Linked DNA regions of Homo sapiens: region 1 is linked to region 2. Evidence: fine-mapped expression QTL. Tissue or cell type: whole blood. Region 2 holds a variant in brackets; the other region holds the start of a gene. All regions are shown on one strand. Distances are from middle to middle.

Evidence for each region. PIP is the estimated chance that this variant, and not a neighbour inherited with it, causes the effect.
Region 1: it holds the start of KLF16, and the variant in region 2 is fine-mapped to the expression of KLF16 in whole blood (INTERVAL, PIP 0.91).

Annotation. Positions count from the first base shown.
Region 1 is chr19:1,861,676-1,865,828 of GRCh38, forward strand. It overlaps KLF16 (KLF transcription factor 16), which reads right to left and starts at 1,904. Exons shown (of 2, transcript NM_031918.4): 1 at 1,366-1,904. The coding sequence starts at 1,822. RefSeq lists enhancers at 1-332, 3,440-3,994, silencers at 1,147-1,316, 1,367-1,546, 1,877-2,976, 3,047-3,266 and a promoter at 1,793-2,997.
Region 2 is chr19:1,825,062-1,829,214 of GRCh38, forward strand. REXO1 (RNA exonuclease 1 homolog) reads right to left here. Exons shown (of 16, transcript NM_020695.4): 2 at 1,817-3,570; 3 at 778-882. Among named protein-coding and RNA genes, the nearest start is that of MIR1909, 11 kb to the left of the region's middle. RefSeq lists a silencer at 2,147-2,282 and an enhancer at 3,408-3,908. The variant T/TGGA (reference allele first, on the strand shown) is at 1,960.

The DNA of each region.
Region 1 (4,153 bases), 37 kb after region 2:
GAGCGAGGGGTGAAAAGAGTGCAGAACAGAGAGGGGGCGGCCGGCAGGCTACACACCACCGCCCCCACCCGCCCTCCTGCTCTCCACCCTCAGGCGTCCCAGCGCGGCTCCCCATACCCCAAAGATGGACCCTCAATTCTTCCGCAAGGCATTCGCGGCCCCTGCTCATCTCAGCCCCACCACTCTGGACGGCCCACTTCCCTTCGGCTGCTCCACGTGTCCCTACAATCCGAGCCCACGGACCAAGCCTCCTTGGAGTGTCCAGCTGCCCAAAGCGGCCACCGCTATGGCTATGAAATAGAGGCAGCATCGCACTCTTGATAGAAATGAGAAAATTGAGACCCAGATCGGGTAGAGGTCTTCTGTTTGGTGGCAAGGCCAGAATGCCAAGCCCAAGGGCAGCCGCACAGCTTTCCCCCAGCCCCCCACCCTCCCCGGAAGGGACAAGCACCTCTAATGCCCAAACCAGGGCCGGCCATCAAGGCCCACCGTCCCCTGTTGCCCAGTCCAAACTCCCAGTCCAGAAAGTGGAACCCTAGGAGGGGACGGAGTGAAAAAATACAGCCAGGCCCACCAGGCTCCCGGTTCCCCTCGCCGCCCCGGGGACTGCGCTAGGAGGGGCGTTGGTGTAGCCGAAGCGCTCCAACTACGCGCACCTTCCCGAATCGCCCGCCAGGTAGGGGTGAACAAACACGCCAGGGAAATACAGCAGTGTGGACCCGAGCCCCTCGAGGGTCCTCCAATACTATGAAGTTCCCCCGCCCAGACTCAGGCCCCAACCCGCGCTCCTAGCCTCGCCCTCCCCCTCGTTAAAATACAGAGAACGCAGAGAAAACGTGCCGGGCTCCCCCCATCCTGGCCCCACGCCAGGTGCTCTGCCGACCTCTGGGGAGAATCCGCGCGGCCACCCCGGCGGCGGCGACGCGGTTCCTCCTCCATTTTCACAGATAAGGAAACTGAGGCTGGGGGAGGGGGAGAACCCAGAACCCCAGAGCCGGATGCTCCAACCACGGTGCCCACCGCCCAGACCAGAACGCAAAAGAAAAAAAAAAAAACGGAACAAGGCCCAGAAAGGGAGAGAGGTGGTCTGCCCAGGAGTCTCAATCCCGCCCGCAGACCTCGCTGGGCCCCCGGAGCCCCCGCCACTGCCGCCGGGGCGGCCATCCGCTCGCCGCCCGACCGCGTGGCCGCCACGCCCCCCGCGCGCGCCCCACCCACCGAGGCCCCGCCCTGCCGGCCGGCGCGGCGGCGGCCCGGGCGCGCCCCCCTCCCCGCCCCCCACGCGCCACGCAGTTTCGGGGTCCTGGCGGGGGAGGGGTCTCAGGCGGCCGCCCCCGCAAGGGCCGGGATCGCGGCTGCACTCACCTGTGTGCGTCCGCAGGTGCGACTTTAGGTGCGAGGACTTGTAGTAGGCTTTGGCGCAGTCCGGGAAGGGACAGCGGTGGCTCTTGGCGGCGGCGGAGGGCGCGGCGCCGGGGGCGCGGCCCGAGGACGGGGACGAGGCGGCTGAGGAGGAGGAGGCGGGCGAGGCGCCCCCCGGGGCGGCTCCGGGTCCGCCGCGCAGGTCGGCCAGGATGCTGGCGGCCAGCAGGTGGGGCGCCGCGGCGGCGCCGGGGCCCGGGCCAGAAGCGGCGGGGGGCGGCGGGGGTGGCCCCGGGGTCCCGGGTGAGGCGGCCTCGCGGCGCGCCGCGCGCACATCCAGGCCGGCGGCGGGGCCCGCGCCCTCGGGGCCGGGCCGCCCGCGGTGCACCACGGCGCCCGAAGAGATGGCCATGAGCACGTCGGCGGCGAAGTAATCCACGCACGCCACGGCCGCCGACATGCCGAGCAAGGGCGCGCGGCGCGGCGGGCGGAGCGGAGGCGGCGGGAGCGGCGTCCGTCCGGCCGGCGGCGGCTGCTCGAGTGCGGGAGGCGGAGGAGGAGGAGGAGGAGGCCCGGCGCGCGCCGCCGCCGACGCCCGCGCTCGGCCTGCCCCGCCCCGCCTGACGCGTCCTGACGCACCGGAGCCCGCGGGGGCGGCCACAGCCCGCCCCGCCCGGAGGACGCCCCCTCGGGGCGCCGCAGCCACGCCCCCCGCCCGGCGCGCCCTCCACCACTCTCCGAGCCGCGCGCGGCCGCCGGGGGCGGGGCTCGGGCCGGAGGAACCCGCCCCCCGGCGCGCCCACTCCGGCCTCCGCCAGCGCCTAGCGTCTTAGGCCCGGAGCGCGCCTTCTCCGCGCTAGGGTGCAAGGCCGGGAGCCCCGCCCCCTCCCGGCGCGCCCCACTCCAGCGCGCGCCCCCGTACCCTTTCCCGGAGCACCACCCCCTCAAGCCGGGGCGGGAGGCCGAGGACCCCGCCCCCTCTCCGGCACGCCCCTCCTTCCGAGAGCGCGCCCCGCCCCATCCCGGCACGCCCCTCCCTCCCAGAGCGCGCCCCGCCTCCTCGCTGGCGCGCCCACCCCACGCCGGGGCGCGCGGCCGGCGGGAGCCCGCCCCCTCCCCGGATGCTTCCCTCCTGGCCCCGGGCGCGCCCCCGTTCGCGATGGAGGAGGGCTCCGATCCCCACGTGGCCGGGGTTGGAGGGGTGCGGAAGCGGCCGGCCCCGCCCCCAGGCCACGTGCGCGACCCTTCCCCCCTCTTCTCCCGGCCTGGGGCCCTGCTTTGACCCCGCACTCAGGCATCTGCTCGTCCTCTTCTCTGGGGTTCCCCCTCGCCGCTCACAGAGCCCCTCGGAGCCTCCCGGCCGAGACACCCGGTATCCCGCGCCCGCGGCGGGGCCCGGGAGGGTGGGGCAAGGCTGCGTTCGTTCCTCTTTTTGCACCCAGTTCCGGAGCTACTAGAGCGCGCCCCACTGGGGGTGGGGAGGGCCGGTTGGGTCCCAGAGGGTCGGGATAGGGGGACGGGAAGAGGGGGCCGAACGCAAAGGGCTGGGCTGGGCTGGGGGCGCCTGAGCGGGTCAGAGGTTCCCCGCCCTGCTGGGACACCGGGGTCCGGGGCTTCTCTTTCCATTCCCAGGCATCGATTCTTGGGGTTCGGACGGGAAAACTGAGGCCAGGTATTCGGGCCTCCCGGCCGCGAGGACGTCCAGGCCAACTTGTTAAATATTAGGGGGGACACCAGGGACGCGGATGGCCCAGTTCGCAGGCCCAAGGCGGCGGGGGCACAGAAACTGGGCGGCCCCCCTCGGTCGCGACCGCGCTCCCGCCCCTTCCCAGCTCCGGCGGGGCGGCGGGGACTGCGCAGTGGCCGGAGCTGCCTCCAGGGGGCGGAGCTGCTTTGGCCTGCGGCGACCTCCTGCTCTGGGTTGGGCATGGACAGAGGCCCTGACCCGATTCGGGGCTTCTCTAGCCCCATCCCCCGCCCACCTGCAACCCCAGCTGACGCCCTGAGGCTGACCACTGTTCCCTGGGTCGCCCGCACTGCGCCTGGGCTCAACCATGCTTGGTTAAGCCAGCTGAGCCCTCCCTGGGCCCCAGTAAGCCCACTCTACGTGGCTGGACAGAGCGGAGCCGAGAGAGAGGAGGTTCAGCGAAGTGTGGGAGGGTACAGGGTGCCCTGCACACACTTGCCCCTCTCCTAGGCCTGGGCTCCAGAGCCCTCTCTGCACCCCTACCATTCGGTGGGCGCTGGGGGTCGGCGTTCCTGCTCCTGCTGGGCCTCTGTTGTCTTTGAACTTCTAGGACGATGGGCCACTTGGGCAGGTCCCCCAGGTCCCCACCATCCCAGCAGCCCCCAGGGTCCTGGAACCCCGCATTGGCTTGTGGACAGGTGTGTCTTGAGGCCTCAGGGTCCACACCCAACCATGCGTCTTCCACTGATGTTTCCTGGGCTTAGAGCAGAACCAACCAGCCCTGCCCTCAAGGGGCTTACAGTTGTAACTGGGAGGCTAACGATGGGGGGCAGGGGTGAGCAGCCTCCAGGGGTGGGCCACATGGCCCCAGGCAGGACCTTCACTGTGAGACTCCATTGTCTGCCCACTCCAGCCATTATCAGGGTTTCAAGTGAGTGGCCTCATCTGCAGGTCATGCCAGCCACTCCACAGGCAGGAGACCCCAGGTGAGGGCACACAGCCCACACCCCACCCATGAGGCTTCTATTCACACCCCTAAGCCCCAGGAACACTCAGGCAACCCATGACCCCTGCGGTGAACACAGACAAACCTCCAGCAGCGCC
Region 2 (4,153 bases):
TCCCAGCATTTTGGGAGGCCGAGGTAGGCAGATCACGAGACCAGTCTGGCCAACATGGTGAAACCCCGTCTCTACTAAAGATACAAAAATTAGCCTGGTGTGGTGGTGGGCACCTGTAATCCCAGGTACTCGGGAGGCTGAAGCAGGAAAATCACTTAAGCCCGGGAGGCGGAAGTTGCAGTGAGCAGAGATCGTGCCACTGCACTCCAGCCTGGGTAACAGAGCGAGACTCCGTCTCAAAAAAAAAAAAAAAAAAAAAAACAACCAAAAAACAAACAAACAGAAAACAGAGGGATGAAGCTGGGAGCAGTGGCTCACGCCTGTAATCCCAACGCTGGGAAGCCGAGGCAGGAGGATCACTTGAGGTCAGGAGTTGGAAGACCAGCCTGGGTGACAAAGCAAGACCCCCTTTTTTTATAATTTTTTTTTTTTGAGACAGAGTCTTGCTCTATCACCCAGGCTGGAGTGCAGTGGTGCAATCTTGGCTCACTGTAACCTCTGCCTCCTGAGTTCAAGCGATTCTCCTGCCTCAGCCTCTCTAGTAGCTGGTATTACAGGCACCCATCACCATGCCCAGCTAATTTTTGTATTTTTAGTACAGATGGGGTTTTGCCATGCTGGCCAGGCTGGTCTCGAACTCCTGGCCTCAGGTGATCCACCCGCCTTGGCCTCCCAAAGTGCTGGGATTACAGGCGTGAGCCACCAAACCAGGCCAACCTCGTCTTTAAAAAAAAAAAAAAAAAAGGCTCCTGCTGGCCTGGCCTCTGCGGACCTTACCTCCTGGCCTTGCTTGGAAAGGTGGGAGATCCTCCTCTTCTGCCCGGGGAACAGAGTGGTCAGACCCGAAAGCCCCTTCTCCTCACTCTTCTCTTCCTTGGGGGGCTAAGACACATGTCCGTCCGTCAGCACAGGTCTGCCCTCGCTGCCAACACCAACACACCCCAACCTCAAACTGCCCCCGGCAAGTGGGGAATGGAACAGTCCAGCCCCCAGGCACAGCAGCTGAGGGCTCAGGGCCAACAGTCCCTGGGCTTTGTGTGGGTGCAGTCGGAGGGGTGGGCAGGTGTCACACGTTCTGCAGATGCCCAAGGCTACCTCTCCTGGGCACCCAGGGCCCCAGCTTGGAGACCCCAGGGCTGCAGAATGAAAGCACACTGGGAAAGCGAGGCCACCTTGGGCCGAACCAGCTGCTGCGGGCTGAGCACTTGGGCTCAGTCTGTGTGGAGTGAGCTCCCCCTGGTGGCCAATTTGGGGACACGGGGCCAGGAGACCCAGGGGTCCAGGGCTGGCCCAGGAGAGCAAGAGCTCGCCACGCTGGGAGTAGGGAGGAGGGAGGGGAGGAGAAAGGAGCCGGAGGGGATGAGGAGGAGGCAAGGAGAGGAGACAGAGGAGCTGGAAGAGAAGAGACAGAGATGGGGGAAGGGAGGAGGGGAGAAGAGAGGGGGAAGGGAGGAAAGGGGAGGCGAGGGGAGAGGGGCTAGAAGGGTGTGCCGGAGGTGGATTCCCCTGAGGTGGGTGGGTGGGCCAATATCCCCCTGCCAGTCAGTGGGAACAGACCGTGTGCACGTGGCCACAGAAGCCTGGCTGGTGGCCACGGGCCAGTGACCTCTGGGTGGGTGAGGGGCAACAGGAGCAACAGGGCTGCCCGGGTGCTCCTGAGCTCCTGAGATTTCAACGGGCTCAGGGACCAGCACTGAGGAGCTGCCTCCACCCCGTGCCTCCGAGCCAACTGGAAACCACTCCAGATAGAAGGTCTCTCACCAGGCCCTCGGCTCTGCCTCTGCCCGAGCCCAGCCCCAGCACCCGCGCGCCTCACCTGCCGGGCCAGCCGGCCTCTGTCCTCCGTCTTGACGCTGGTGGACTCGTTGAAGATCCGCAGGCACTCCTCCATGGGGTCGGAGTCAAAGTCCACCTCCTTCTCCAGGGCCGAGTAGTCCACATCCGCCCCCGCGCTGGAGG[T/TGGA]GGAGGAGGAGGAGGAGGAGGAGGAGGATGGGGCGGGGGAGGGGGGCGGGGAGGCCTTGAGCCGCTTGGGCGGCCCCTGCGCCTCCGGGAAGCCCAGGCTGGAGTCTGAGTCGGAGTCTGAGTCCGAGCTGAGGCTGGGGAGGGCAGAGGGCCACACGCTCGGCACCCCTGGCCCTGCGGCCTCGTCCTCACTCTCGTCCCCAAAGAGGTCGGCGTGGCTCAGGGCCCGCTTCTTCAGCTTGGGGGCGTCCTGGGAGGCGCCCTCGTCTAGTGAGCGGGCTTTCCGCTCCACTAGCTTCCCCGACGGGGCCTTGGTGCTCTTCCTGTCGGGCAGCTGGAGGGGGCGGGGTGGGCCTCTGCCGGCCGCCGGTCGGGAGTCCCCGCTTGTGGGGCTCGGCCGCCGCGCTGGCCGGTCAGGCCTCCCTTTCCCTGAGGTGGCCACAGGAGTGGCCGAAGATGGCTTCTTCTTGGTCCCTTCCGGCCGCTCTGCCTTGCGCCGGGGGCTGCTGGCCTGCGGGCCCTTCTTGTCCGCACGGGGCTTCTCCACAGGCCGCCCTCGGCCCTTGTCCTTGGTCTTGTCCTTCCCCTGGGCCCCGTCTTTGCAGCTGGGGGCAGGTGGGGCCCCGGTTTTTTTCTTCTTGGGTTTTCCCTCCTTGGGGCAGCCCCCATCCTGTGAGGACTGGACCTGGGCTGGGGAGGCGGGCTTGGCTGGGGGCGGCTGGAGGTCCCCCACGTCGCACTGCACGGCCGTCTCCTTGGTCTCCCGCAGGCCGCCCCCCTCGGCCTCCAGGCCCTCTTTGGAGGGTGGCTGCCCGGTGGCCTTGATCTCAGGGTCGGCCCTGGCTTTGGGGGTGCTGGCCGTGGTGGGCTCGTTACCTGGGACCGTGGCGGCCTCATCTTCTGAGTCTGAGAACCTTGCATCGCAACTGCCAAAGGGGTCACAGAGCTTCTTGGGAGCAGGTGTGTAGGGCTCACTGCCGCGGGAGCCCCGGGGCCGCTTGGCGGCCCGCTCATCCCGGGAGCTGGCCCTGCTGAGGTGCCGGGCCGAGTAGTTGGAGAGAGGGTCATACTCCAGGTCTGTGGGTGGCCTGGAGTTGTCCACCACGTACTTGCCACTGGGAACGGGGCGGCTGTGCCGCCGGGGCTGGCTCACAGCCTTGGGGACGTATTCCAGGGCACCGCCACCCCCTCCACCTCTGCCCTGACCCCTGTCCAGGGACGCCAGCGAGTACTTGCTGCCCGGCTCGGCAGGGGCGGCCAGTGGGGTGGGCTGGTAGCCGGCATCAGGGCTTAATAGGCCGTGGCTGCCGGGGCTGTAGTCGAAGGCCAGTGGGAAGGCATCCTCGTCCGGGCCCACAGTGGGGCTGGCGTTGGGGCCGCGGGGCGCCAGGGCGGGGGCCTCGGCGGAGCGGTGCTCACGGGTCGTCTCCAGCAGCTCCCGGTAGCGCCGCTGCTCCAGCTCCACCTCACTGCGCACGGCCTCGATGGCCTGGTTGACCAGCTCCAACTCCAGCACATCCGGGCGCGGCTCCTCCCCCAGGCCCAGGGTGCCATTCTCCCTCTGCGCGGGGGGCTTGGGCAGCTCAGGGTTGTAGGGGTCGTAACCCAGCCCTGAAGGGAACAGAGAGCACAGCTGTGACCAGCCTGCCGGAGAGGAGCCCGCAGCATGGGGGCGGCCCCGGTCTCAAACTGCAGGGAAGGGAAGAGACCTGCCTCCGAAACCCACCACGCACTGGCGCCCGCCAAGGCTCTGGGGTGCCCAGCTGGGTACAGGCCATGGCGCCATCTCAGGCCCTGTGCCGGGCCCCGCCTTGCCCTGACCAATGGGCGCTGGATGGGCCTGGGCTGCGTGACACACAGCTCCCTGGGTACTGGAGGCTCCCTCACACGGCTCATGAAATGCGCACAATGACCATGGTGGGGTGGACACTCGACAGGCTGGAACTCCCCGGGGCAGGCGGGTGTGGAGCTCCCAGCATTCAGGGTGCCGGGCTGAGGCAGGACTGGGCTGGGCCGACAACCACAGCCTGACGGTGGACACAGGAGAGCCCTTCCTCAGCCAACACGGCCCCACCCAGCCAGCAGTGTGCCCGCGGTGTGGCGGAGGTGTGCCAGCAGTGTGCCAGCGGTGGTGTGGTGGCGGTGTGCCTGCGGTGATGTGGCTGAGCAGGGCCGGGGGATGGGGACATGCCCA